Regions from separate parts of the Homo sapiens genome. Here region 2 is reported to be linked to region 1. The links are microRNA targets in miRTarBase. Many come from high-throughput screens and were not tested one by one. Region 1 holds a microRNA gene; the other region holds the end of a gene's coding sequence. Distances are from middle to middle.

Region 1 (3,152 bases):
TAAAGTACAAATTCTGTTCTCGAACCACAAACAAGGCTAAAAGATCGGAGGAAATTCAGTGAATATACAGGATTGGGGTTGTGTATTTTTAAAAGTATTGAGCTTTATAATGTAATTATTCAAGAAATAGAATCATGGTTTTTTTATGATGTTGCCAGCATTTTAAATTACATGTTTATTAAGTGGCATTGCTCAAATAACTACAGAGTATGCGTGGAAATATTTGCTGTCTGAATAGTTTGGAGATTCAAAGAGAAAAATCAAGCTTCAGAGGTATTAAATTATGACATGCAGAAAAGTTTTTGTTTTGTTCTTAACTGCAACGGTATATATTTAAATCCGATTTAAAGTATTATATGTCCTGGGCCCACCTTACCAGTTGTGCTGTATAGCAGTGTAATGGGAAGCAAAATTTCAATTAGGGTCCCATTAACTGGCATATAATCCTTCTTTAATGTAATAGAGGCTATGGTGTTGCTGTACAAATCTGCTAGAAGCAGATTTTAACCCATGTTTAGTCTCTTTCTTTGGATCTAATGGAATGACTCTTAACTGTTCATTGTCTGCATTGTTTCTCATATTCTTCATTATTTTAAGGTCTGGAATTAGTCTATAAATGGTCGTCGTGATTACTCAGCTCATCCTAACTTTTATATATCATATATATTTCTACTGAAGTATTTTAAATAGTATTTAGAGGTAAAAGTCTAAGTGAACCCAACTGTAATTTCTAAGCTATCCTTATTTCTGGAAGAAGAATTCTACCGCATCAAACCAGACTTTTCCTAGTCCCTGAGACCCTAACTTGTGAGGTATTTTAGTAACATCACAAGTCAGGCTCTTGGGACCTAGGCGGAGGGGAACCAGCAGCTTTGGACCTTATTGATTGTCTGCAGTTACCACCAGAACAAAAGAACATACATAGATTCTGCCTAGGAGAAAAGAACAATGCTTTTCTTTATCATCAGCAACGTTTTCACCATGACCCATCCCCAAAAATACTATTGTCAGAAACTGTACTCTAAAGTGATTACACAGTTGCACTGAAATAGCGTTTGTATTATAACGATCATACAAAAGCAATATAAGAAACCTGTGTAAGAAGCAAAATTAAAATATAAGTGTTTTAAAATGCTTCTTTTGGTGCATTTTAAGGTGGCTAGTATAAGAGGATATCTCTTCAGTTAATGAAGAGAGGGGATTATATTTATAACTTTTCATATGCATTGAAATATATACATTAGCTACTTAAATAAATCCTGTATGCCTCCATATAACTATGGCTCAGACTATGTCATATACAGCTATAAGCATGCTTGAGGCCTAGAAATAACATGATTTACAATCTTCTTTATTGACCCTATTAGATTTTACTACCGATTTAAGAAGAATGCTGTTTTATACTTTGTATTTATTGCCAGGGCTTTTCTGAGTCTTCTATCCAACCAACATACTTTATATGTCTTAACAATTCTAACAATTATTTTGTTACGAGAGTCCAAGAGTGAAAGTTTCACCAATAATCTGGGAAAATATGTCTTTTTAAAATTTTTTACAGTTTACTGTGTACATATCATGGGCCTACGTGAGATAAAACAGTAAACGCCACCTATGAAGTCAAACTGCTTTGACTAGCAACTGCATATGAACTGCATAGTTTTAGTTTTATAAGAATTTTAGCTTTATCGGAGGTAACTATTCCAACCATAAGTAATATGTCATATTTGAAAGTTTAATAGCCATTGCCACATCAGATATGTCTTTCTTGGAGATAGAATCAGTATGCTAAATCTATTTAAAAATTTTACAATAATGTTACAAATATCAAGATTCAAAATGGAGATGACAGACTTTCCTTAATAGAAGCAACAAAGTGGCTTCATTCTTTTAACTATTGCCTTAGATGGGTGCCATAAATTATGTGTCTTCTGCATTGTTAAAATAAATTTATGAATGTATTTTAGAATACTGTACGGAGTCTTTGTTCATCTTTTTAAAAATTTCTTATAATACCTACTTGAAATATTACAGAATACAAATCATCTATTAGTCATAGTTATTAAAAATTACTATAACAATATCATAAACATACACATCTATATAAAGCATGCAGAATATGTTTAAGCATGTATGCACACTGTACCTATTCAGATTCTTTATTTATATCATCTACTTCATTTATCTAGAAGTTCTGAAATTTTAGGTGTGTGTATGTATATGTATAAATATAAGTTTTAAAGCTCCAAATGAAAGGAGGTAATATAAACAGTAAAGAGCTTTGGTAGTATTTATCTTTTATTTCTTTTGACCTCATTCTCATTGGAATTGAGTATTTTTTAAAACCATAAGTTTCTTAATACAAAGAAATCTATGTATGTGTGTCTACATGTACACAGAAGCTTGATTACATTTAATAGCAATGTTCACACAATGGATCTGAAAGTACTTCTTGTAAAAAAGAATATCACATACAAGTATGTGTTTACTAACATCTGTTTTAACATGATCATAAATAATATCTGTGAAAGGTTCCATCAAGTTAGTTCCAAAACAATGTAAGGGGTAGATGTTTATTGGCTATAGTGATATCAGATATAGGTTATTCAAACGTGAAAATTTTTTAATGTTATCATATTCATGAACCACACTATATATTAACTTCTGTCTCATAAAAGAAATATACCAAAACTGAATTGAGAATGCAGTCATGTTTGTTCATTTTCACCATAAACATATAAAATGTTTTTTACTGATAATCCTGCACAATTGGAACTTCTCTATGTAACCCTCCTATATGAACAGTCTTTCAAGAGCGTCATTGACAAAGCTTTTCTTTTACTTCATAAAGGTGTATATAGATTTAAGTGGGTGACTTTGCTTATGTAGGCTACTTTATGCTGTATGTGCATAGACAGATGCCACTTTTTCTGCATTTCTATCTCAGCTGTCACAGGATAATATTGTTTTAGGGCTTTATGATATGATTTGGAAAATCAGATCATACTAAGCTTAAAATAAAAAGGAGAGATCTACAACAAAGAGCGAGAAAATGATGTGTGTTGCATGCAAAAAAAACAGTGATATTAACAATTCGATGGCTTCCTGGTTGGGAGACCAGCCTGAGCCAGACGCATATATTAAGGGCTGTCTGC
Region 2 (3,000 bases), 30 Mb from region 1:
GTGGTGGTGGAGCTGGATGGGCTAGAGCAGGATGCCCTGGACCTGGTGGCCCTGGTGACCAACGTGGTGCTGGAGGAGCACTACCTGGTCGTGGGAGTGGTGGTCATCGTGGACCCAGGGGTGATCCCTATCAACTCTCGGGGTGAGAAGCAGCGCATGCACCTGCGGGACGGCTTCCTGGCTGACCAGCTGGACCCCATCTATGTCGCCTACAACATGTGAGCGCAGCACACCGGCCCAGGTGCCGGAGATGAATGAGCCCCAGCAGTCCAAGGTGTGATGTGGGAAGACACCGCAGAGCTCACTCACCGGGACTCGCCCTTCCTGTGCTCTTACAGATCCCTCTCAACAATCCCCGCATCTCCTTTTAGAAAGCACTTCCTGAATTATTTAAAGAAATATTTTGAATCTGCCAAGTACATTTACAAAAACACGGATGCTGGTATTTTAACAGATGGAGAGACAAGGAAAGGAAAGGAAAGGCCTGGCATGGGCATTGTGAGGAATCACAGGCACCGAGGTTGTTCTCTGCTGTACTGCAAGTTTGCACTTTCTTTAGGCTAAAAATATAGTTCCTGATTTTTAAAATTCAGTTATTTATTCCCACTTCAAATGACAAGTTCATATATAGAATTTACGGGAGAAACTTGAGACCATTTACGGGGAGAAACTTGATTCTGGGAAGATAGCAGAGTACAAACCAGCTGCCTCACTTCTGTTTCACAGGGAGGCTGATGGAAAAAGGAAGCAAGCTGGACCCATCCTCCCTGCTCACAGAGGGCACTGTGGTCACACACAGTGCCTCCTCTGCCAGTTCCTTTATTGAAAGAGGTGTGCTGGCTGGCCACGGTGGCTTACACCTGTAATCCCAGCACTTTGGGAGGCCGAGGCGAGCAGATCACGAGGTCAGGAGACCGAGACCATCCTGGCTAACATGGTGAAACCCTGTCTCTACTAAAAATACAAAAAATTAGCCGGGTGTGGTGGTGGGCGCCTGTAGTCCCAGCTACTTGGGAGGCTGAGGCAGGAGAATGGTATGAACCAGGGAGGCGGAGCTTGCAGTGAGCCGAGATCACGCTACTGCACTCCAGCCTGGGTGACAGCACGAGATGCCGTCTTAAAAAAACAAAAAAGAGGTGTGCTGCTTGTCAGCATGTATTGTCACGGACACTCAATAAGTGCCATTTTGGACTGTCAAATTTAGATGCTTTGTTTCAGAAAGATAAGCCAGCATTTAGTTTTAAATCACTTTCCTGGTTTGTAACTTGATGCTGTTTAGTTAAATTGCTAGTTTTCCTAACACTACAATATTAATTCTTCTCGTGGAAGTGTACTGATTTATTATTTTTATTCCAAGTCAGCAGATTTGGAAGCATTGTGGTAAAGTCTAAGGTTTTCATATCCATAGTGCTGTTTGGTGAGTACCGGCAGTACAGTTGAGGGGAGCAGGGAACAGCATTGCCCCGTATTGAAGGTGGAGATGGTTACATTCTTCACTGCTTTTTGCATTTTGAGTTGTGTGCCTATAAAATTTGGCCAAACCATTTTATTATTTTGTTCAAACTTGACTAAGCTGAGTGATCTAAAATTATACAGAACCTAAATCAAAGAAGAGAATGTAAAGTCCTTTAGTTACTTCTAAGAATTTGAAGTCAAGCACGAATCTAAGACATAGATTATTTTTATATAGCTAATGAAGAGTATGTTACGAAATTGTTGGGTTTTTGGGGTATTGAGGGTGGCAAATTTTGTGAATCATGCATGCTTCACAGAAACAACCAGGTTTTTCCAGAATTAGTCTGGATCAGTGCCTAACAAAGCTGTTATTAATTCTCCACACATGAGTCTGGCTAACTGGGCCAGCTCTCATGTTTTACTCCTGTCTGGCTACAAATAGCACTGTGCATAGTAGCCCTGTTTCCCCATGGTGTTGGACTGTGGTAAAGTATGTTGTGACATACTGGAATTCTAATAATCCTGTTGTAAGTATGTACAGAATCTATGTAACTTATTGTTGACATACAGAGGTTTGGGAAGTAGTCTAATGGACATTCCTTACAATAGAATGGCTGGGAAGGGAAAGAAAAAAAAAAAAAAACTACCTAACTCCAATCTTAATGTTGTAGTTTTATAGCAAACAAAAATTGTCAGCTTTTTGTATTGAAAGGTCAGTGGTGGTAAGACAAGGTGTCTTGTAAATTAAGATTTTAAGAAGTGCATTAAAATGTTTTAGAATTACTCTGGGAATTCTGTATATCACACTAAAATTTTTATATCATTATGTTAATAAAAGTTATTGACTTTGTAATTCTGCATTTTGAAATGTGTGAAAAGGGTCTTTAAATTACCCCGAATAGGTTGTATCTTATTTTGCTTTTTTTCTGACTATAAAAGCAGTTATGCTTATAGCATAAAATCTAGAAAGCACATTAAAGTATAAAGAAAATTAAAATTTCTTATAATTCTACCTCTGAGTAAACAGCAGCATTCGTATGTAACATAAACCCTCTCAGGGATTTATTTTTTCTTTTTAAAAATTTTTTACAAAATTAGGATCAAGTGCTTTTTTAAATAATTTGCTTTTGTACTTAATAAATTATAGACTTTAAAATCTATTACATATATTCTTCTACATGTTTCAGTGGCTGTATTTTACAAGTGTGCCATGAGTAAATGTAGTATTTGCTGTATTGCCGTACATCAGCGTTGTTTCAACAGGACTGCAGTGAGCCCAGATGCACGTTTACACTGCCATGATTACAATTACTGCCTTGGGCTCAGTTCTTATAGGTAGAGTGAGTGGGTCAGAGTTCATGCCAGGTGTGAAGCTTTGGGTACCTGCTGCCCTCCAGAAGGGCAGGATGACAGCATGGAAAAGGCCTCTTTGCAGATGCCAAGTAATGTTGGCAATGGACATGTGCTCAAGATTAAAATAACTCTTTAACAATTTGATAGGCAAATAAGTGTTGTGTCTGGTCATGTTGAATATGTCCTCGTGTT

Evidence for each region. The annotated mature microRNA hsa-miR-125b-2-3p reads UCACAAGUCAGGCUCUUGGGAC and lies in region 1 at 827-848, shown strand. An mRNA with a match to its seed (bases 2 to 7 or 8) in the 3' UTR can be bound and repressed. Matches are read on the target gene's strand: a 7mer-m8 pairs with bases 2 to 8, a 7mer-A1 pairs with bases 2 to 7 and ends in A, and an 8mer does both.
Region 2: miRTarBase lists DIP2A as a target of hsa-miR-125b-2-3p. The part of its 3' UTR that is shown has no 7-base or 8-base seed match.

The regions. Positions count from the first base shown.
Region 1 is chr21:16,589,464-16,592,615 of GRCh38, forward strand. It overlaps MIR125B2 (microRNA 125b-2), which reads left to right and starts at 774; the gene lies at 774-862. All of the region lies in intron 6 of MIR99AHG (mir-99a-let-7c cluster host gene), which reads left to right.
Region 2 is chr21:46,567,401-46,570,400 of GRCh38, forward strand. DIP2A (disco interacting protein 2 homolog A) reads left to right here. Exons shown (of 38, transcript NM_015151.4): 38 at 1-2,615. The coding sequence ends at 222. Among named protein-coding and RNA genes, the nearest start is that of S100B, 36 kb to the right of the region's middle.